Regions from separate parts of the Homo sapiens genome. Here regions 1, 3, 4, 5, 6 and 7 are each reported to be linked to region 2. Evidence: microRNA targets listed by miRTarBase, many of them from high-throughput screens and not tested one by one. Region 2 holds a microRNA gene; each other region holds the end of a gene's coding sequence.

Region 1 (3,113 bases), not on the chromosome of region 2:
GCACATACATAGAATAGGTGAGACTCAAACCCAAACTTTCCAGTCATTCCTTTGAATCCTGCTTCAGTCCCGCTCCTTCCATCATAGTCTTCCAAATATGTTAACATCTTTTTCAAATTTATATTGTATAATATTATCACTTCCTTCGTACTCTAAAGAAAAAGTATGGCAGTCTTGTCAGTGAGGGCCATTGAATGATTCCACAATGAAAAATAGCTGAGATGTATCCAGACATCTCAACAATAACATAGCCCTGGGGAAATGGATGTAGACCTGGCAAAAGATTCTCAAGACAGAGAAAAAATTGCAGATGTTTATAAGATCTGATTTTTTTTTTTTTTTTTGAGACAGAGTCTCTCTCTGTTGCCCAGGCTGGAGTGCAATGGCAGGATCCAGGATCTCGGCTCACTGCAACCTCCACCTCCCAGGTTTAATCGATTCTCCTGCCTCAGCCTGCTGAGTAGCTGGGATTACAAGCCTGCACCACCATGCCCGGCCAATTTTTTTTTTTTTTTTTGTATTTCTTGTTTTTTTTTTTTAAGGAGAGACAGGGTTTCGCCATGTGGGTCAGGCTGGTCTTGAACTCCTGACCTTGTGATCTGCCCGCCTTGGCCTCCCAAAGTGCTGGGATTATAGGCATGAGTCACTGTGCCCTTCTAAAGATCTGATCTTTAATAAATGGGTGAATCTTTACAAATTTCTTCTTTCTGAAGTCCCATTCTTTGGTTATGAGACCCCCGGAGCTACAAAGAACAGGACTGCCTATGAAGAAGACCGGCAAAAGTAACTGGCAGTTATGAAGAACTACAAGATGAGAAGGAAGGATTCACTTCAATATTATACACATACAAATAAGTATATAAAATAATATAATAAAATTGTTATTGAATGTCAGCAAGTAGAAAAATGCATTGTAAAGATGTTAAGACCCATGTGGTCCATTTTGATTATTGTTTTTGAGGGGAACACTTCAAGAAAAATAATTGAAAAATTAGCACAATATCAAACAAAATGTAGCTCATGGGTCCTACTATAGTTTGGGTTCCAACTATTTTAAGCAAGAAAGAGGAAAAGTTGGGAAAGAATGAGGCGAGAAAAACAATGAAGTAAATCAAATGATAAAAACCAAATGATGAGAGTTAGATTGTGAGTATGGGGGAAAGATGGCTAGATAAAGGGGCTTCAGTGCAGCCAGCAAGTGGTTAAAGGCATGGTTTGAGGAGGGCATCTGGAAGCTGTTAAGAATTTCCACAAAGGGTGGGCAAGAAGAAATAGCTTCCATGGCCAGAGGACCTCAGCTGGATATCAGGAAGAATTTCCTGACCGTAAATGTCAAGAGCTCTCGTTTACAGGATCCAAAGGAGCCTTCTGGGATGTGCCTATCTTAGGAATATTTTTCAGCCTCAAGCGAGAAGCTGTTTGGGTGGTTTTCTGCAGCCCTGGGTTGGACTGTGTGACCTCCACAGAATACCTTGGTCTCGTTGCTGAAGGGCACGCCTTACACTGGGGCTTTCACAGTGTGGTTGCCAGCAGCTGACTCCCGCCCAGGGGCTGTGGAGTTTTCCCCACAGAAAGAACAACTGAGCCTTTCACTCCCTGTTCCTCACTTGGACCAGTCCTTAGGTACATCTGTGGTTTTTCAGCTCTTCAGCACTTAGGCACTTTCCTCCTGAGCCAAGGGCCTCCTGGGAACAATGCAGCATCTGTGTGTTGATAGTAACAGCCTATGGGCCAGAGTCACTCAGCCAAGCTCTCCTTTCACCACACAGGAGCTGGATCACACACCTTACCTGCAATAATCCAAGGCTTAGTCAGCCTCAGCCCGTCCCACTGCCAGTGCCCTGCTTCTCCTATCTGCTCCCCAACCTTTCACCTAATTTGCTTCCTAGCTCAGTTGCCACATTTGTTCCAATCCTCATGCAGGATGGTCTCTATTTTCCACCCATCCCACCCACAGAGTGAACAATAACATGTTAGTGGCTTATGGTCTGACACTAAACAGTGGGCACTGCAGAGGGAGGAACATGCTGCTTAGTTGGGCAGCTGGGTATTTACAAAAGGTTTGGCCTGCAAAGAGATGCCAGCCTTTCTCCTATAACATGATTGCCTTTTATTTATTATGCAGGTTGTTGATTTACATAGGGAGTTGGAGATGCTAACCAAGCATGGAGTTTTCACATGGTCTATTTCTGCTGAGTTCAGGGACTTGGAGACAGCCTTTAACTTCTGGCAAAAAGACAATTTCACAAAGGTGTTTAAAACCATCCTTTGGTTTTTGATCCTGAGTCAGAGACGGACATGTGCTTATGAAAGAAGGTAGAGTTTCAACCCTTAGGTAACCTTAAAAGAGCAGGAACTATGTTGTGTGTAAGTCATGTGCAGTATACAAACTTGATATTAAATGACAAATTGGAACAATCTTTCTCTAGGAATGCCTCTCTTTCATAGAGGCATCACAGTGAGTCTCTTAAAGCCTTGATCTAGGTGTGTTACAGATGGGCTTACAGAGTATGAATGCACGATAAGAAGGAAATTGGATAGGGAGTGAGGATATGAAATTTAAAAGAAGGAAGAAGAGAAAACGAGATTTTAAGACAGGAAATGAAGCTCTGTGTGTGTGTGTGTGTGTGCGTGTGTGTGTGCACGCGTGCGTGCGTGTGTGCACGTGCGTGTGTGTGTGGTTGGCAGGCCTAGTGATCCTGTTGTTTAGTGTCTCTGAGATTTGAGTTGTGCCTTTTTACTTTGCATAAAGTAGATACTTGGCCATATGTAGTTCCAAGGAGAAGTCAGAGTTCCACCTTTGGAGTCTTTCCTTCTGATTCACGATTTTCTTTCTGGAAAACATTATAACAATGATATTTAGATTAGTAAACTGAGCTGTTTACTCCTGGAAGTCCTAAATCCTTCTTTAATTTTTATCTCATGAACCCTGTTATATGAAGTTTGATTTGTTGCCCATTAATGCTTTACACTAAATGCTGAAATCCAAAATTCAGCCTCTGAATATGCAAGGCCTTTCCAAACATGCTTTTCTAGTTTGAGTCTCACGATATATCCTAACAAGCATCCTGACTCCGGCCACCATATCCTCATAGACTTTTGCTTTTAATCAA
Region 2 (3,113 bases):
CACTTTGCCGCCGGGGCTGGGGCAGGGGGCAGGCTGCGGCCCAGGCCTGCGCGGATGCCGAGGCAGGGAGGTCATGGGGCCAGGGGAGGACAAAGAGCAGGGCGGTGAGTTTAGGGCCAGGGAGCTGAGGGGAGACGGCCCGGGGCCGAGGACCAGGGTGACAGTGCCAAGGGGGGCCGGCGGCCAAATCTCCTTTGGCTGCCACTTTGGAGCCCCACCCCGGAGTCCGATACTTCCACGTCTGAAGCTGGCCCTGCGAGTCCTAACGAAGGTCAAACCGTCAAGGCTCCTTTGATTTTACACGTTTTCAGCGCACAGACAGGATTCTCTCGCCTCGTCCCCTCAAAGACCGGCACAGGGCTGCGAAGACCCCTGAGCCCTTGAGGCACCCCCTCCAGGCTCCAGAGGCTTCCGCGGAGACAGAGCGCGCAGGAGGGACCCAGAGCCCCCAAGGGCGCCCCGTGGGGGTCGCCAGGCAAACCAGGCAGAGCCAGAGCCCCCTCTTCGCCAGCAGGACGGACCCGGGCGTCCTTTGGGGACCCCAAGCCGCCCGGGGGGTGGTGCGTGCGTCCCGAGGACGCCGTGTCCGGGCCCGCGCAGGCCCCACCCGGGTCACGGCCCGGGATACGTGCGCCGGGCGCCCAGCGGGTTGGGGGGGGCGGGCCCGCGGGACGCGGGTGCGGGGCACGGAGGCGGCCGGGTCGTACCACCGCGCCGCGGGAAGAGGGGCAGCTCCCGGCCGGCCCTGCCGCCCCACGCACACCCGCGGGCGGAGGACCCGTCGCCAGGCTGCGCCCCACGCCCAGCCCGGAAGCCCCGCGAGCCCGGGCCATACCACCGCGCGGCGGGAGGAGGACCACCTCGGGCCGTACCATCCGCCCGGCCGGGGGACGCGCCCTGGCCCCGCCGCGCCCTCGCAGCTGGCGCCCCGCAGGCCCCGCCCGGCAGGTGCCGCCCCTCCCCGGGCAGACGTGCAGAAAAGAACGCGCCGGCCTCGCCCGCGAAGGGCCGCGCGGCGGTGGGCGGGGCGTCGCGAACCCCCCTCGCGCCCACTGGCTGCGTTGCGGTAGGGCGGGCCCGGCTAGGCCGGCCATTGGCTGAGGGACCAGGTCATTTGCATACGGGGCTGGGCGTGGAGCCGCGGGGCCCGGGGCCGGTCGGGTCGGGCCGGGGGGCGAGAGGGTGCCAGCGGCCGCAGCTGAAGTTGGGCCGAGAGCCGGCGACGGCCCCGCGCCGGGGTCGCAGGTGACGCGCGAGGGATCCCAGGTTGGCGGGCGGGGCGCCCCTCAGAGGCCGCCCTCCCGCGGGGGCTGCGGGGGGTCGGGCTGGGCAGGCGCGGCGGGGCTCGGACGCCCAAGTTGGAGGGGACGGGGGTGGGGTCAATCCCTCCGCCCGCCCACCCGGCAGTGCCTCCAGGCGCAGGGCAGCCCCTGCCCACCGCACACTGCGCTGCCCCAGACCCACTGTGCGTGTGACAGCGGCTGATCTGTGCCTGGGCAGCGCGACCCTCCTGGCCCCGTGTCCGGGTCTGGCGGGCAGGCGAGCGGCCACACGGGGACGCGAGGGCAGCTGGATACCGTGGGGAGGGGGTGCCCTATGGACGGGGTGTGCCTGTCTGGCCAGCAGGGACGGCGGGTGGGGGTAAGCGAAATCATTCGGGGGCTTTGCTGCCCTCCGCTTGGTGGGGCTGAGGCTGGGCCAGATACCCTCTTGGAGGGAACTTTCTTTTCCTTGTGTGTCCAGGGTACCAGTGTGCGGAGTTCCTGTTGCCAAGCTGAAGGTGGCCCTGGGCAGGCACAGGTGTGGTCATATCTTCAGCCAACAGGACCATCCTCCGGAGGGCCACCTCTGGGGACTTCCTACGGGAAGAGAGTGACAGATTTGGTGCTTCTGTGTGTTTCTGCCGCTTCAGTGGGGCCGCTGCGGGAGACAGCGGGTGGATCCTCCAGCAGCCTGTCTGCTGAGCCTGCCTTCTCAAGTCTACTGTTAAAATCAGGACCGGGTCGTGTCCGAGCCTACAGGCCCTGTCTCCGCTCCCCAGGCCTGCAGGAGTTGAGGGCTGCACCTGCTCGCTGGAGAGGGAGAGGCAGATTTAGTGGACGCCTGGCATGGACTCGGACTGGCCTTTGGAAGCTCCCTGCCCTGACGGGGTTGCCTGTCACCACTGCGAAGTGAGGCTTGGCAGGACCTGCACCTGAGAAAGGCTGTGTGTGGTCTTGGGGTCCACACCTGCAGAGCTAACTTACTGCCAGACGGCGACTTACTGTGGGCCACCCTCAGTGAACCGGGGTGTCCTCAGCTGGCCCTACAGAGCACTTCTGTGCTGGGGATGAGTAGGAACTCTGGGCGAGGAGGGTCCCAGCGCCGCCCCTCGATACAGCCTGGCTCTGCCCTCTGCCCGTACTTACACCAGGTGGGATCCCTGCCCTGCATTGCCTGGGGATTGGCTGGGCTTGGGCCCGCCCTGCTGTGGAACTGGATGTTTTCAGGGAGCCCAGCCTTTCCTCATGTCAACACAGTTCACAATATAGTTTTCAAAGTACAGTTTAAAACTCAAAAGTAAACTTTTCAGCAACTCAAAGGTTTGCTGAGTGATCTGAAGCACTCTGGCCACTTTTTGGGGCCATGGGATTTGGTTCACCTGAAACAGCCAGTGAGAGGCCGGGTGTGGTGGCTCACACCCGTAATCCCAACACTTCAGGAGGCAGACGCGGGTGATCGCTCACTTGAGATCAGGAGTTCAAGACCAGCCTGGGCAACATGGTGAAACCTCGTCTCTACTAAAAATACAAAAATTAGCTAGGCATGGTGGTGGGCACCTGTAATCCCAGCTACTTGGAAGGCTGAGGCAAGAGAATCGCTTGAACCTGGGAGGTGGAGGTTGCAGCGAGACGAGATTACGCCGCTGCACTCCAGCCTGGGTGACGAGAGACTCTGCCTCAAAAAAATAAAAAAATGAAACAGCCAGTGAGGAGGAAGGCTCCCCGCCTTCCCCCCGCCGGAACATAGCCATAGCTGCTGCTGGGACACCCTCTTGGTGGGGAAGAAGGCTGGTTAGCTTCATCAGAGCCAGCAGCAGCAGACCAGGGACGGGCACCTAGGCAGTGGCCTCA
Region 3 (3,113 bases), not on the chromosome of region 2:
TGGAAGCAGCCTGAGGCTTTCACCAGATGTCCAATCTTCCAGCCAACAGAATCACGAGCAAAATAACCCTTTTTTTAATGTATAAATTACGCAGTTTCAGGTATTCATTTATAGCAACAGAGTAAGACAAGTACCTACTGGGAAGCATATATAAATTATGAAAACTGCAAATTTTTAAATACATGTAAATACTACCCAAGGATATCTGTATTTAAATGCAGCTTTGCCTGCAGACTTCATTAACATGAGAAACAAAGGCAGCAGTCTGTTTTCTGAATGAAGCATAGTAGGGCCAGGAGTAGTGACTCTCGCCTGTAATCCCAACACTTGGAGAGGCCAAGGCAGGCGGATCGCCTGTGGTCGGCAGTTTGAGACCAGCCTGGCCAACATGGCGAAACTGTCTACCAAAAATACAAAAATTAGCCAGGCATTGTGGTGGGCACCTGTAATCCCAGCTATTCAGGAGGCTGAGGCAGAATAGCTTGAACTCAGGAGGCAGAGGTTGCAGTGAGCAGTGAGCCAAGATCACGCCACGGCACTCCAGCCTGGGTGACAGAACAAGACTCAGTCTCAAAAAAAAAAAAAAAAAAAAAAAAAAAAGCACAAGCACAATTCTAAACATTCAAAGAAAAAAAGTGTGTTATCTTTCGTGGCAGCATTGGTATCTGATGCATTTGTAAATGACAATTTCTTTAGATTGCCATTGAAGTTTCTTAAATAGCAGTAATAGTTTCTTCATTAAGACATATCCTATTTCATGCCAAACTTCATATGTATTCTTACATTGCAAAGTCCAAGGATAGACACAAAGTAGAAAGATACTACTCAAAGAATTTTTAAGGATGCATAAAATGATCCTCAATTCTAGAAAACGTTATTACTAATTTCTTAATGTAGCATTTATTTGGAGTTGCTTAATGTTTTTCAATTACATGACACACTGTTTGTTTACACAATTTTAAACTTTGAGGTAATTTGTGCCAAAGGATCTAGAGTAATTCTCAACAGAGGTAGGAATGAAGCAATTTTGCCCACCAATGGACATTTGGTAATGTCTCCATTCTTCTCATAGCCTGTGGGAATTGGAGGGAAAGAGTGCTTTTTGTCTGTAGTGGCAGAGCCCAAGTTAGCTACTAAACAAGCTAAAGCGCATGGGATGGTCTGCTAAACCAAACTGTCTTTCAGAAATAGTCAACAGTGGCAAGGTTGAGAAACCCTGTTCTTAGAGGTTCAAATTATACCTGACACATAGGAGGTAAAAGCATGGAGTCTGGTAACTGAAAACACTCTACACACTCTAAATTCAAAACTACATGGGTGTAAATATCCACCATTTGACTAACAGAATGAATTCAAGTAATTCAACTCGTTTAACAATTTCAAAATTTTTGAGATAATCCACGTAATTCAAATACTTAGTTCAGTTCCTGACATTTAAAATGTGCTTCTACTACCCTGTAAACATTTAATTGTATACTTACGTATGAAAATCCAAAATTAATGTCACTGAATTCCTCAAGTTTCTATGATGTGATGACTTACACACACCTATGTGAAAACTTGCTATATTCCCCATCTTAAAATTATGAATATACTTCCTGGCCTTTGAAAACCTGCACCATGGCTAAGCGCAATGGCTCACGCCTGTAATCCCAGCACCCTGGGAGGCTGAGGAGAATGGATCGCTTGAGCTCAAGAGTTTGAGACCAGCCTGGGCAACATGGCAAAACCCTGTCTCTAAAAAAAATTACAAAAATTAACTGGGCATGGTGGCACATACCTGTAGTCCCGGCTACTTAGGGGCTGAGGCAGGAGGATCACTTAAGCCCGGGAGGTAGAGGCTGCAGTGATCCATGTTTGTACCACTGCACTCCAGCCTGGGTGACAGAGACTATCTCAAAAAAAAAAAAAAGAAAAAAGAAAAGAAAACCTGCACCCTGCACCAAGACTCAGCAGCCAAAATTCTCAAGATCTCTTGACTACTAGCACCATGGTTAGCACTGATAAACTCAGATTTCAACTTCAATCCTAGGACCAAAGCAACTTATAACCTTGAAAATCACAACAAAGAGATGCCAAGTAAAAACCATTGTTAAAAACTGCACACACTTCAACAGCCAGTAAGAGAAACTCAAAGGTTTCCATTTTGCCAGTGTCAGATGCTGGAGTATCCTTCCCAATTTACTTTTGTATAATTTCCAGTTCCAGTTGTTATGTATGCTCTAGTGAAGTTACCAACAGTCTATACACAAAATGGAAGTGTTTTACTAAAGCAGCTTAAAGTCGTATTTTCAAACTACAGAAATTCAAGAAATTCTTTAAATTCTAATAGTTAATTTCCTATACTCTAAAGTTCAGAGCATACTTTCAGCATAAAAAAGTGACACATATCAAGTTTCAGTTATTTATTGATTTAATCATTGTAATCTCCAATAGAGATTACAATAGAGATCTCCAACATGATTTCATGCATTTAGAGGAGAAATATTTCCTGGTTAAGTGGAAAATTGTGCGGATGTGGCTTCTGGAAGACCTTCATTCTAAAGCAGCGTTATAGTGAAACATTTCATTTAGAAATCTGGACGTTCCTTCTTCAGCTTGCTGTAATCCACATTCACTGAGTAGAACTTGGAACAGAAAAAAAGATATTTTAAGTAATCTCAAATACACAGAGACGGTACAAAGGTTTTAGAATTCTTTGTATTTGGTTTTCTACAGTAACAATTACAGATATGAATTTTTAAAAGAATATTTAACAACATAAAATCATTCACAGAAAAATACTGTACCTAAAATTCCAGCCTTCAATGATAGTTTTGGCAAGGTAAAAATATTCAATTTATTTCAGAAGAGCAGTATTATAGTACAGTCTACTACTTGGAACCTATAAGGAAAATTCTTTTATTTCAAAGTGAATAATTAAGAATTCCTTCTGATACATACTTCCAATTCGGTAAGTTTTTGCCTTAACTCTACTAAGTACGTGGAAGAATCGCCAACAGAATAGAGGATTAACAAGAATTACCTTCCCTACTTGCTGAATGAACTGCTGTAATTTAGAGGGAGAGATCCTGCAACAAAAAGAGGCTAGTAATATAAGGTACTGCTTTGTT
Region 4 (3,113 bases), not on the chromosome of region 2:
ATTCACTGTTCTTTGGCAAATAAGAACTATTTGCATTCCAAGGCAGATGACGATTTCTGTGAAAGGAGCTTAGAGGTACAGCTGTTTCCTTCTGTTCAGTCAAGTGCCAGTTTCATAAAGTGCACCTCTGCCCTATCAGCTTTGGGGGAAGGGTGGCATATGGGGAGGAAGGGATCATTGAGAATACAGGGTGAAAAAGAACGACGTTACTGAAGGTAGACATTGCTAGTGCAAGGTACGGAATCCATGTGCAAAAGGTGGCTGGAACAAATGTTCAGATAAGGTGCGATTTGCCAACAGGAGCAGAGAACTCTGACACCAGATCTCAGATGAGGCCAAGGAAATGCGCGGGGCACATACAGAGAGGACGACCTGCAGCCCTCCAATGGCCACGTCATTCCACCGGGGAACTTGTTTGGAGTTTTGGCACCGTGGGCTAACCGAGCACTCTTCTGACATATTCTTACAACTGGAAATGCTTTGTTGGTCCCCATGTTCCTTGACTTTCTCTAGGGCCATAAAGGCAACATCTTCTATTGCAGGTCCTCAAACATTCCAAGGAAAACACTGCTTCACCTCCTGCAGACAGCTCATTTCCCAGAAGCCTCTACAGAAGCCCGTCCTCCCTGGGACAGCAGGGGCAGGGGTTTGCAAGATAAAGGAGGGTCAGCTAAGGACATGAAGCCTGCAGAAAAGGCTATCAGATGGCGCCTGAACTTAAGGTGGGAGGCCCCCTTCTAGAAGGCATCCCGGGAGCATCCAACAGCAATGTGGCACTTAGGGCTGTGGGACAAACAAGTGGAAGAGTCTTTTGGAGACGTGGACCCTTTTCCCATGCTACTCACAGTGAAGCAAAATGCGACAAAAGCATCCACACACGGTGACTTAGTAAAGCAAGCACCGTCGGGGTGCTACTTTCATGACAGCATATGGTCAAGCTATAAAGGTGTGCATCGATCAGTCCTGTGAAAATAGAAGCTTAGTTATTAGCATGTATTGAGGCAACTTGTACTTTGATTCTTGTGTCTTCTTCACATGTGTGAATGACTGCTATGGGACAGAACATATGGTTAAAAACAGGAGCGACAGCAACATAACACACAGGGTTGGCCGGCTCCATTACGGGTAAGACTCAGAGGCTGCTCCAGGTGTGTCCGGGGAAGCCAGGCCCTCACACTGCACAGCTTACAGGGCCCTGGGGTGGGGGCTGTGAGCTGGCAGCCTAGAGGACACAGCTCACCTGCACATGGTCTCTGAAAGTGTTCAAATTGGTTGCCAACATTTATAAATGGAGAGATGGCACCAAAAAACATCTAGGTTTCTTGTCTCTTGAAAAATCAAAGCTGTGGCCACCCTAGGCCCACTTTTCCACATGGCAACAGGCGTGGAGCTGGGGGCTACTGCCCCTACTGTGTAGGCGGTGGGCTCCCCATAGTCTCCTCTGCCCTGCTGCCGTGTACCTGGCTCCCTTCACTCATCCACATCACCGGCCCTAGGCCAGGGTCTGAACCACACACACAGAATGGCTGCAGTAAGCAGGAACGGGAAGAGCTTTCACATTCAGAACAAGAAGGGGCTTTTGAGTAACTAAAAAACAATCTGAGCATGTTCCAGCACTTCAACCTTACTCTTTCAGAGCTTTGGGGTAGCAGGCAGCCAGCTAGAGCACACTCTCTAAGGAACTCTTGAAAGTTGATGTCTAATTTTTAAGTACTCATGAGGTGATGGAGGAGAAACTAACTCAGATGACTGCGATACGATACATCTTTCCTTATAAGAAGTCCTTAAAGATGATGAAAAATGTGAAGCAACTCATGTGAGAAAGCTGTAAGTGGTCAGAGAAGCAAGCTGACTTTTGGATGAAGGGTACAACACAGTGTCAGGGAGTAGGTGATTTCTTTTCCCTATAGTTCATGGTAGTGATACCTAAATGGGTGGCACAAAATGAGTTCTGGCTTGTTAGACTGATGCTTCTCTTTGCTGCAGGTTTTGAACAAACTGTCTGGCTTACAGGGGTGAGGGAGAGCACCTGACAATGGGTGGTGATGTGCGTGGAGCTCCTACCCTGAACATGGCTTCATGAGATGTCCTGTGGTGGGTCAATGCTTTATCTCATTCCATGGAGCCTTCAAGATGACAAGAAAACATCAAGAGATAGGAGCTTGAGATAACAACATTAAATAACAGAACATGTAACAGGGTAAAACACTGAGAAGAAATGAACCAATTCATTGTTTCCTCCCAAGAGAGACTGTGACACTAGTTTTAAAAAGCGGCAAAGTCCTTTCTCTACATACATGCTTGGAGATACCCCAAACTTAGAGATTATGAAGTAGGCCAGGAAATTCACTTATTGCACGATGCTTGGCAGGGAACAAATGACGCTGATTTTTTCTTTTTTAACTGAACTCTCTCAAGAAAATGTTTTATGAAAAATTTCATTTATAGTTTCAGCCATAGGCAGGGAGTTTTAAGGGATGGAAAAGTTTTCACAAACTTTAGACAATGAAACTATACTTTTGGATGTATGTGATCAACTCAACAGTTGTTGACAACACAACCGAACATCAGAAACTAAACCAGCAAATAGGCACAAAATAAGGCAAGTGGGTTAAATAGTTGAAAATTGGTTAGAAAACATGCAAAAATAATACTGAGTTTTCTTTTAAAAAGTTTTAAACCGTCATTAAATGTTTCTTTTTGTAGAAATCTGAAGAGTTCTGCGTCTGAATTTGAAATTGGACTTTATAAAGCCTAGAAAACAGAGGAGGCGGTGCCCTGCCCTTGTCAGTTGTTGTTCTCTTTGGTGGTGATGGTAACCAGCTGCTTGGCAGCCTTGGCGATGTCGTACGCACACTGGATGACCTGCTGCGTGACCAGCTGAACGTCTGTGGGTGAGCCGGGGTCCCCTGGGAGGGTCTTCTTGCACTCTGACTGCAGTCGGTAGGCACTGGACGTCAGTAAACGAAGGGAAGTCCTCACCATATCAGACTTGGGTTTCTAAAAGGAAAAAGACAGCCGTTTACCCTGAACTGCAGGGCAGACATCCAAAAGCAGGGGACAAACATTCTTCTAAAGCAAACCAAGCTGCTCCCCAGAGTGAAAGGCGGTTT
Region 5 (3,000 bases), not on the chromosome of region 2:
GCTGGACGAGGAGCCAGGAGACCACAGCCCAGGGCAGGGTAGCCTGCGCTTCCGCCACAAGCCACCAGTGGAGCTCAAGGGGCCCGATGGGATCCATGTGGTGCACGGCAGCACGGGCACGCTGCTGGCCACCGACCTCAACAGCCTGCCCGAGGAAGACCAGAAGGGCCTGGGCCGCTCGCTGGAGACGCTGACCGCTGCCGAGGCCACTGCCTTCGAGCGCAACGCCCGCACAGAATCCGCCAAATCCACACCCCTGCACAAACTTCGCGACGTGATCATGGAGACCCCCCTGGAGATCACAGAGCTGTGACTAGACAGGGAAGCCTTGTGGGTGTGAGCAGCACCCATCCACCGTCCCCTCCCAGGGAGCAAGGGCAGGGACAGGGCCGGTCGGGGGGGACCCTCCAAGGCCAGGCCTTGGGGACAACCTTGGCTTGGCCCTGGCAGCCCGCATCAGCTGCTCAGATCCCACTTTTGCCAGACGCTCATTCAGCATCTGACCTCTACCTTCATAAGATCTGTTATTTTTATAAGAAAACCAAACAAAAATGTTAAGCATCTAAGGACAAGGTAAGGAGGGTCACTGGGGCCCAAGAGTCTGGGGACCAGCTTGGCTCAGGCTGAGCTGAAAGAGGCCAAACAGGCCCTCCTCCCTCCCAGCTCCACCCCGCAAGCACCATCCCCTCCGGCTAAGCAGGCGCAAGGGAGGCCCAGCGCGGACATCCCCTGCTGGCCGGACACCCGACTCCAGTCCAAGTCTCGCTACATTTCCGCCACATCCCTCTCTGCTGGACGTCCAGGTGGAGGTGGCATCCCCACGTGGACAAGAAAGTCAATGTCAATGAACAAGCATTCTCTCCATTTCACTGGCTTCCCAAATGTGTGCCCAGCTTATAAACAGAAGTGACTGATGTTCCCTCCGGTTTTGAATGTGGAGTGTTTGTGTGTGTTCCTTTTTTAAATTAAGTTATTCCCTCAATAGTTTCCCCTTGGTTTTGTTTAACTGGTACTCACTACAAGTTTCTGGAATGGTTTGTTTAAAAATCAAGGCAACTCTCAAGGAACTGGCAACGTGCTCTGACTCTGGCCTCTAGGGAGCAGGGACAGGGGCAGGTGAAGAGCAGAGCCGACCTTCAGGTGCGCCTGACCTACTGCTGGCCCTGAGTCTTGGGGAGGATGAGGTGGGATCTTCCTTTATCCACTTTGCTTTCATTCTCTGGCCAAGATGGGTCATGGGAGTGCTGGGCCCCAAAGGTGTCATGGGCTCAGAGCTCATCAGAGAGGAACAAACTCTTCCAGCTGAAGGGTCACAGAAACATTAGGCCCAGATCTGGCTAACAGAATTTTATTGTTAAATCACAGAAACTTTAGTGCAAAACAAAAATCACGAAGTCCATTTAATAGCAACTTCATGTCCTGCTGGCTTTGCTTGCTGTCTCCTGGCAACCAGAAGTGGACAGAAGCGTGGGTGCCCAAGTGGGCCACAGACAGCTTCCAACCCCCACACCCCAGCATCCAATCCACACCCAGCAGACCCTTCGGCATGCCGCCCTCTACCAGGAAGCCAGAGGCCTAGGAGCTCGCCATCCATATTTATTTGAAAAGGTCAAAAGGAGCATCTATGAGACAAGGGAGGGGTGCAGGCTGAAGCAGCGCCTCAACAGCCAGGGACATGTAGGCAACACGAGCAGGCACAGCGCGGCCACCACTGTCCACACGCTCACACAAGCCAGGCCCGCAGGGCCTTCGGAGAGCTAGCAGGTTACATTCAGGCAGATGGCCCTCTTCCCACCCAAACCCACAGAACCCCAAACAAGGCATCACCAGGAAAGACACGGGAAAGCCAAATCACAGTTGAACCAGGGACAGAGAACCCTTGGCCCCACTGATGTCCCAAGCCACCAGCAGCTGCTTCCAAAATCCCTATGCTATTACAGTGGGAATTACATCATTTAAAAAGCCTGATTATTCCAGGCTTCTAATCTTTCATATAAAACTGCCTTTGTTTTGCTGCTTTGTTCAACTGAGAGGCCCAGGAAAGCGGGGAGGGTCCCTGATCAGGGCAGGAGGCCACCTCAGAAGCCCAGGCCCACCAGTGCCCAAGCACATGTCAGGGCTCAGAACAAGGCCTCAACCAAGAGGGTTGATGGCCTCCAGTCAAGAAACTGTGGCTCATGCCAGCAGAGCTCTCTCCTCCTCCAGCAGGCGCCATGCAAGGGCAGGCTAAAAGACCTCCAGTGCATCAACATCCATCTAGCAGAGAGAAAAGGGGCACTGAAGCAGCTATGTCTGCCAGGGGCTAGGGGCTCCCTTGCAGACAGCAATGCTACAATAAAGGACACAGAAATGGGGGAGGTGGGGGAGCCCTATTTTTATAACAAAGTCAAACAGATCTGTGCGTTCATTCCCCCAGACACACAAGTAGAAAAAAACCAATGCTGTGGTTTCTGCCAAGATGGAATATTCCTCCTCCTAGTTCCACACATGGCGTTTGCAATGCTCGACAGCCTGGTAGGAGAGAGGAAGCTGAGTTTAGTCTTCGGATGAAAAACTCCGTTCCCGGCCCATCAATGTATCAGATATCACCCCAAAACAGGACCTGTTCTCTTGTCCTAGGTCAGCTGGATGGCACCAGATGCTGAAGACCCAGGACAGGATCTCACTTAAAAACAGGGAACACGTGGCCATCAGAGTTTTGGGAACTTCTAAGGCACGAGTCCAGAGCAGCAGATGCCTGCAGCAGTTTGCAGATGAGTACCCACGCAGGCAGGGCTCAGGACCCTTCATCTACCTGCACCCGGCACCCAGCGTCCTGCTAGCAGCCTGCACACTAACTCCCAGGCAGAACCTCCTTGCCTGAGTTAGGCTACACACCAGCTCGGGCCTTGAGAAGCAGGCCCACATTTCCCCAGGACAGCAGCAGAACCAGCTGTGGGGTGGGGCTGGCGGTGGAGATGGGCTGGAGCCTAGCTGGAGGAAAGAGCTGGACATGGCCAG
Region 6 (3,113 bases), not on the chromosome of region 2:
AATAAGTAGTAAATTTTGTTATGAGAGTAAAGCAACTGTCTTAACAAAGTGCCAAGTTTTATTCACATGCAGGGGAAAAAAAGAGTGACACTATAACCAGATTTTAATCCTTTCTTCATTTGTCAGCTGAATAGATTCAGGCTTGCTTTTTGCTTTTGGATTGTTCCAGGGTTCTCCTAATACTTTCTACCTCTGGGATTATTTACCATAGCAGAGGTTTAGCTTGCTGTGATCCCTTCTCCTCTAGGCTGGGAGGTCCTTGAAAACAGGAACATTTTATTTACCTTCTATCTCCAGCAGCTAGTAATAGTGTCTGGCACACAGCAGATACTCAGGAAATGTTTGATGAATGATTAGATTGCTGTTTTTCTTGATGTGTTAATTTTGACAGAGGAAGTCTGAAGATATATTCAGCTTTGGAAGATTATTGTGAAAATATTCTTCCTTTTTACTGAAAGAAGCATATTTCCCCCCTACAATATGGAAGTTAATTTTCCTTTTGGTAGATCATGTATCTATGAGTCGATTGATTCTTCTGTTTTTTCTTATGCTTCATCTTTTTGGAAGAGAAACCACGGATATTTCCCTATCAAATCTGTAGATTCTTCTCTGTCCTCTAAACATCATCAAATGCTATGATCAGGATGGTGCATGACAGACAAACTGATCATTAAGTGTAAGTCAAGTATGTTAAGAAATGGAAGTCATATGTCAAAACAGGGAGCCTGATTCTCCACTCTAAAACTCAATCTTTTTGAACCTGAGTAGTGGAAGGTCTTAAGTAGTATGCTATTTTCTTCCCATTCTGGGACACCTCCTTTGCCATGGCTGGACTAGAAGCTCATTAGAATACCTTCCATTTCTATTTATGTTCCACATTCTCCAGAACCACTAGTAGGTTTTCAGGTAGCTCTGCAGGGTCATGGTGACTCTAACCAAAATAAGGTTGCCATTCATACTGAGAATGTAACTCACATTGAGGAGTTAGGTAGTTTCCTTACCAACCAAGGAACAAACTAGATGCCTAAACTAGCTGCTAATTATTGTCTTTGGAGGAGAAATAATGCCACATGAAAATCTATTCCTGGAAGAAATAACTACATTAAAAATAAGACAATTGTTTTTAAAAAATACTTCCTCAGTTCTATGTTAGACATTGTAGGAGATAAGGCCCTGGAGAGGCCAAAAGCAACAGCAGTGTCTTCTATCCAGCCCAGTCCCCCAAACCACAGACCAAGCTAAAGAGAGCAATCCAGGGGGATACAAAATTAGCCAGAAACAATATAGCTAAAATGCATCACACAGCTTAGAACGAGGCAATCTGGGACAAAGGGGTCAAAGACCTTGAAGGTTACTTGTGAAGCAGATTCATTACTAAGGGAAAACATACTCAGGTAAGTTGTTCAAAAATGGGTAAAAAGATGCTAACTGTGGCAAAATGAGTCTGCTTCTAAAATAACAGTGCAGATGTAGACTGCGATGAACTCCAGGAAGACAGAAGAACCAATGGAGTCAATCCATTAATTTAACTTGTATTCTTTGCTAGAGGGTGGCAGAGTTGACAGCTGTTGAAAAAAATGGGCCTATAAGGTGGACTCGCAATTATTAGCTTCAAAGTGAACTAACCCACAATTGTATTCATGATGATCATTAATTTTTATGTGTGCATGAAAGATGGCCCTGCTTTAAGCTGTGTAGAGTTGTTTCCAAGCTGACAAGCTTGGAAGCCTTGTTCATTAATTACTCTAAATTCCTATGGATGGATAAAAGACCTCCAGAGGTCTGAGTTGTTAAAGGCCCCCACTGAAGGAAATACAGACTATACATAAAGGAGTCATTCTGAGTTCAAGGGGCCCTCCCACGGCGTATCAATTCCTCCCAAATATTTTTGGGGGTAAATGAAACATTATAAAGTGAATTTAATCATTTTTGGAAACATTAATTATAAAGCATTTTATATCATTAGGCAAGCATCCCCCTGAATGGCTATGAAATATTTTACCTCTGAAAGTTGAAACATTTAGCTTGAATAAAACTTGACATTAAAAAAGTTATGATTAGACTGGTTCATTGATATATATTTGGAGATCAGACATTTACAAGGACATAAGTGTATACAGTACCTGCAAACACACAGACACAGCACATGAAGGTACAAACACATTTAGTTATTTTCACATAATTCCCAAGAGAACATGCAATGCTAAATTGGCTTGATATTATACAGATGCAATTTTGGAATATTTACTTTTAGTTTTCCAAATGATCTTTATAAATCAAAGTTATATTTCCTGATCAATATTAACAAACATTTTCACATGGTGGCCTTGCCATGACAACTTGCCCCTTACAAATTAAATATGCTGTATCAACATTTGGCTCTGAAAAATGTTTAACATTTTATTTGGGGGGCTTATCATATTTTAATGTTTAATATTTTAAATGCATATTTCCCCATATTCCAAGTAATGCATCTTTATATTTTTGCAAAGAATATTGTAAAGTTCACCACACCAACAGCAGAGAAAATTTAGAGAGTGATATTTTCATTTTTTCTTTATAATGCTGTTAATCCGATTTTTTAAAGCCAGCCCATTTGTTTAACACTAGGTACCTGTTACAATACATTAGATTCGTCTGAGAATGTTCGTAAAAGAAGAGGTCTGACTGAAGGTCTGGCGGATAATGAGTCAGATGCCCTTCTACAGCTCAGATTTCTCTGTAATAGTGAGGCAAAGATACTTAAAGCATTTGAAAATTGGTTAACCTACCTGGTGATTATATATTTAAAAAAAGGTAAAAGAAAAAAATCATTTCCTATAGACTACTCCTCTGGCCAAAAGTACAAATGATTACACTATATAGTAAATGTATAACATTCAAATGAATACATTCAAAGGCCTAAGAAAGTCTCCAACTCGAATTGTTTTTGTGGTAGAAGTAAACAGACAACAGTAGTATGTAGTAAACTTGGGTTTTTGGAATGGCACTGGTAAGTAATATGGTAAGATGAGTCAATATGGTTTGATTAGTAAACCTTACCATCCTTTTGGTGAACACCTCTGAGAGTTGTGCCGGTGCCGTATTATCAAACAAAGAGAAATTTGTGCAAA
Region 7 (3,000 bases), not on the chromosome of region 2:
GGGTGGGGGCGGAGGGCACAGGTGAGGGGGGCTTGCTCCCCAGCCGTAGCAAGGGGAGGGAATCCTGGCCCTGACTCTCCCCTCCTCTCTCCCCACCCGCACCCCACCCCGCAGCATCGCACTCCGGGGAGAAGCCGGTCCCCACTCTCCCCCAGTTCACCATGGGCCCCAATGTGAAGATCAACGTGCTGGGTGAGTCTGCGCAGCGCCCTCTGGTGGCCACTGCTGGAACCGCAGCCCCCCGCCCCGGTGCCTGCTCACCTCGCATGCCTTCCCTGGGGGCACTGATACTTCCTACCCTGTGGGTGGTCACGTCCCTGGCTCCATTGCTGCTGCCGCGTGCCCCTGCCCTGGCGCGCAACCCAGCCCTCACCAGTCTGTCTGTTCCTCTGTCCACAGAAGACTTTGAGGGAGAGAACCCTCAGGTGCCCAAGCTTGAGAAGAGCATCAGCGGGACCAGCCCCAAACGGGAACACCTGCCCCTGGCCGTGGGCATCGCCTTCTTCCTCATGACGTTCTTGGCCTCCTAGCTCTGCCCCCTCCCCTGGGGGGGGAGAGATGGGGCGGGGCTTGGAAGGAGCAGGGAGCCTTTGGCCTCTCCAAGGGAAGCCTAGTGGGCCTAGACCCCTCCTCCCATGGCTAGAAGTGGGGCCTGCACCATACATCTGTGTCCGCCCCCTCTACCCCTTCCCCCCACGTAGGGCACTGTAGTGGACCAAGCACGGGGACAGCCATGGGTCCCGGGCGGCCTTGTGGCTCTGGTAATGTTTGGTACCAAACTTGGGGGCCAAAAAGGGCAGTGCTCAGGACTCCCTGGCCCCTGGTACCTTTCCCTGACTCCTGGTGCCCTCTCCCTTTGTCCCCCCAGAGAGACATATGCCCCCAGAGAGAGCAAATCGAAGCGTGGGAGGCACCCCCATTGCTCTCCTCCAGGGGCAGAACATGGGGAGGGGACTAGATGGGCAAGGGGCAGCACTGCCTGCTGCTTCCTTCCCCTGTTTACAGCAATAAGCACGTCCTCCTCCCCCACTCCCACTTCCAGGATTGTGGTTTGGATTGAAACCAAGTTTACAAGTAGACACCCCTGGGGGGGCGGGCAGTGGACAAGGATGGCAAGGGGTGGGCATTGGGGTGCCAGGCAGGCATGTACAGACTCTATATCTCTATATATAATGTACAGACAGACAGAGTCCCTTCCCTCTTTAACCCCCTGACCTTTCTTGACTTCCCCTTCAGCTTCAGACCCCTTCCCCACCAGGCTAGGCCCCCCACACCTGGGGGACCCCCTGGCCCCTCTTTTGTCTTCTGTGAAGACAGGACCTATGCAACGCACAGACACTTTTGGAGACCGTAAAACAACAACGCCCCCTCCCTTCCAGCCCTGAGCCGGGAACCATCTCCCAGGACCTTGCCCTGCTCACCCTATGTGGTCCCACCTATCCTCCTGGGCCTTTTTCAAGTGCTTTGGCTGTGACTTTCATACTCTGCTCTTAGTCTAAAAAAAATAAACTGGAGATAAAAATAACTGAGTGTGTGTGATTTCAAGGGGCCATCACCCTTCTGTTACACTGGTTAAACCTCACAGGGCACAGGGCCTGAGTAGGAGAGGGAATTCTGGGGCCAAAGAGTCACAACGAGGTGTTCAAATCTTGTTCTGGGGCTCATCTTCATTACAAAGGCAGCGCTGCTTGGAAAGAGCAAGAGGGGCCTCCAGGCAGGGCCTGGTTGACTTTGGGCAAATCACTCAACCTCTCTGATTCTCAGGTATCCCACCAGAAAAACTGGTTGTGGTATCTCTCTCTTAGGGTTGGTGTAGGGATTAAATGACGCAGGGAGTTAAAGGCTCCATCAATTATGGTTTCCACCTTTTCTTCCCCTTCCATGCTGTAATTGAGGTTCTTGACTGGAGTCTATGGATTTCAGGGGATTTGAGAACCTAGACAGAAAAAAAACTATCTTTATTTTCACTTGCCTATAACTAAAATTTAACATTCTCTTGTGTGCTTGGGCAGCAAGCCATAATAGTATTAATAGTACCTGTGACTTTGTAACCAGAAATCACACGTTTTCAGGCTGCATTATAGTTGTTGAAGATATCTCAAAATACAATTTACACTCATCAGTACTTTGAAATGATCATAGTTGTTAGGCCTTCCTCATTTTTAATGTGTTAATAAGAAAGCATATATATTACTATATCAAGAAATGTAAATGTTTTGATAACTCTTTCAATATAATTAGCTTTCTTTATAACCCTTTGTAATTTTACTCATTTCAAACATTATGCCCAAGGTGCTGGGAGTTTGCTGGGGCTGGGGCTGCTCATAACTACACCACCCTGCATCGCTCGGGAGGGCAGAGAGGACAGAAGGGCAAAAGACAGGATAATGGCCGCTTCCCAGGGGCCCCAGAGAAGGTCAGGGTTTACAGACCAGCACAGCATAAGGGAGTGCGGATAGGGGCTGAAATGTACCTGCAACTTCACTTGCTGAGCCAAGTGCCTGGCCCAGGGAGGGGACACCTTATTGCCAAGCTGTGCACCCATGGGACTCCATCCCACCCAGGCTCTCTAATTGGCACTGTGTGAGCAGGCCAGATCCTGTGTGCCCCTGTGGCTCTTGCCGGCTGCTTTGTGAGAATGAGCCCTTGGTGGTAAGGACTGTGTTTTCTGCTCCTCTCTACCCATAAAACATGGAAAATGGAATCTGAGCTAGACTCTGCAGAGTGGGTGGGTTTCCCAATAGCGGAACAGGGAAGAGTGTGGGGTGGGAGAGCAGGTGGGGAAAGAACTGGGGGCAGCCACTAGACCAGTCTGAGACTCCCTACAGACTGATAAGACAGAAAAGGTGGGCCTATCCATCCAATCGTCCATGCATTCAATCCACATTTATCGAGCACCTGCCGAGTGCCAGGCTCTATCCTGGGTATTGGAGACACAAGATATAGTCTCTACCCCAAAATAAGCTCATACTTTAGTATGTGTTGATGTATGAGCAGAAA

Evidence for each region. The annotated mature microRNA hsa-miR-210-3p reads CUGUGCGUGUGACAGCGGCUGA and lies in region 2 at 1,464-1,485, shown strand. An mRNA with a match to its seed (bases 2 to 7 or 8) in the 3' UTR can be bound and repressed. Matches are read on the target gene's strand: a 7mer-m8 pairs with bases 2 to 8, a 7mer-A1 pairs with bases 2 to 7 and ends in A, and an 8mer does both.
Region 1: miRTarBase lists ERP27 as a target of hsa-miR-210-3p. Seed matches in the 3' UTR shown: 7mer-m8 at 2,627-2,633.
Region 3: the mRNA of COXFA4 is a reported target of hsa-miR-210-3p. Seed matches in the 3' UTR shown: 7mer-A1 at 2,508-2,514.
Region 4: miRTarBase lists GIT2 as a target of hsa-miR-210-3p. Seed matches in the 3' UTR shown: 7mer-m8 at 2,047-2,053.
Region 5: the mRNA of PSAP is a reported target of hsa-miR-210-3p. Seed matches in the 3' UTR shown: 7mer-m8 at 2,398-2,404.
Region 6: the mRNA of ATP11C is a reported target of hsa-miR-210-3p. The part of its 3' UTR that is shown has no 7-base or 8-base seed match.
Region 7: the mRNA of EFNA3 is a reported target of hsa-miR-210-3p. Seed matches in the 3' UTR shown: 7mer-m8 at 1,328-1,334.

Annotation. Positions count from the first base shown.
Region 1 is chr12:14,911,949-14,915,061 of GRCh38, forward strand. ERP27 (endoplasmic reticulum protein 27) reads right to left here. Exons shown (of 7, transcript NM_152321.4): 7 at 2,091-2,834. The coding sequence ends at 2,787. Among named protein-coding and RNA genes, the nearest start is that of ERP27, 25 kb to the right of the region's middle.
Region 2 is chr11:566,484-569,596 of GRCh38, reverse strand. It overlaps MIR210 (microRNA 210), which reads left to right and starts at 1,399; the gene lies at 1,399-1,508. MIR210HG (MIR210 host gene) reads left to right here and starts at 1,140. Exons shown (of 2, transcript NR_038262.1): 1 at 1,140-1,245; 2 at 1,744-3,113. RefSeq lists enhancers at 1-208, 2,794-3,113.
Region 3 is chr7:10,931,066-10,934,178 of GRCh38, forward strand. It overlaps COXFA4 (cytochrome c oxidase associated subunit FA4), which reads right to left. Exons shown (of 4, transcript NM_002489.4): 4 at 878-2,627. The coding sequence ends at 2,571. Among named protein-coding and RNA genes, the nearest start is that of COXFA4, 7.5 kb to the right of the region's middle.
Region 4 is chr12:109,930,191-109,933,303 of GRCh38, forward strand. GIT2 (GIT ArfGAP 2) reads right to left here. Exons shown (of 20, transcript NM_057169.5): 20 at 1-3,000. The coding sequence ends at 2,788. Among named protein-coding and RNA genes, the nearest start is that of TCHP, 31 kb to the left of the region's middle. RefSeq lists an enhancer at 2,438-3,113.
Region 5 is chr10:71,814,966-71,817,965 of GRCh38, forward strand. It overlaps PSAP (prosaposin), which reads right to left. Exons shown (of 14, transcript NM_002778.4): 14 at 1,333-2,511. The coding sequence ends at 2,476. It overlaps CDH23 (cadherin related 23), which reads left to right. Exons shown (of 70, transcript NM_022124.6): 70 at 1-982. The coding sequence ends at 313. Among named protein-coding and RNA genes, the nearest start is that of MIR7152, 26 kb to the left of the region's middle.
Region 6 is chrX:139,729,037-139,732,149 of GRCh38, forward strand. ATP11C (ATPase phospholipid transporting 11C (ATP11C blood group)) reads right to left here. Exons shown (of 30, transcript NM_001353812.2): 29 at 2,615-2,719. The coding sequence ends at 2,618. Among named protein-coding and RNA genes, the nearest start is that of MCF2, 22 kb to the left of the region's middle.
Region 7 is chr1:155,086,014-155,089,013 of GRCh38, forward strand. It overlaps EFNA3 (ephrin A3), which reads left to right. Exons shown (of 5, transcript NM_004952.5): 4 at 115-192; 5 at 400-1,525. The coding sequence ends at 530. EFNA4-EFNA3 (EFNA4-EFNA3 readthrough) reads left to right here. Exons shown (of 5, transcript NM_001407761.1): 4 at 115-192; 5 at 400-1,525. The coding sequence ends at 530. Among named protein-coding and RNA genes, the nearest start is that of EFNA3, 8.7 kb to the left of the region's middle.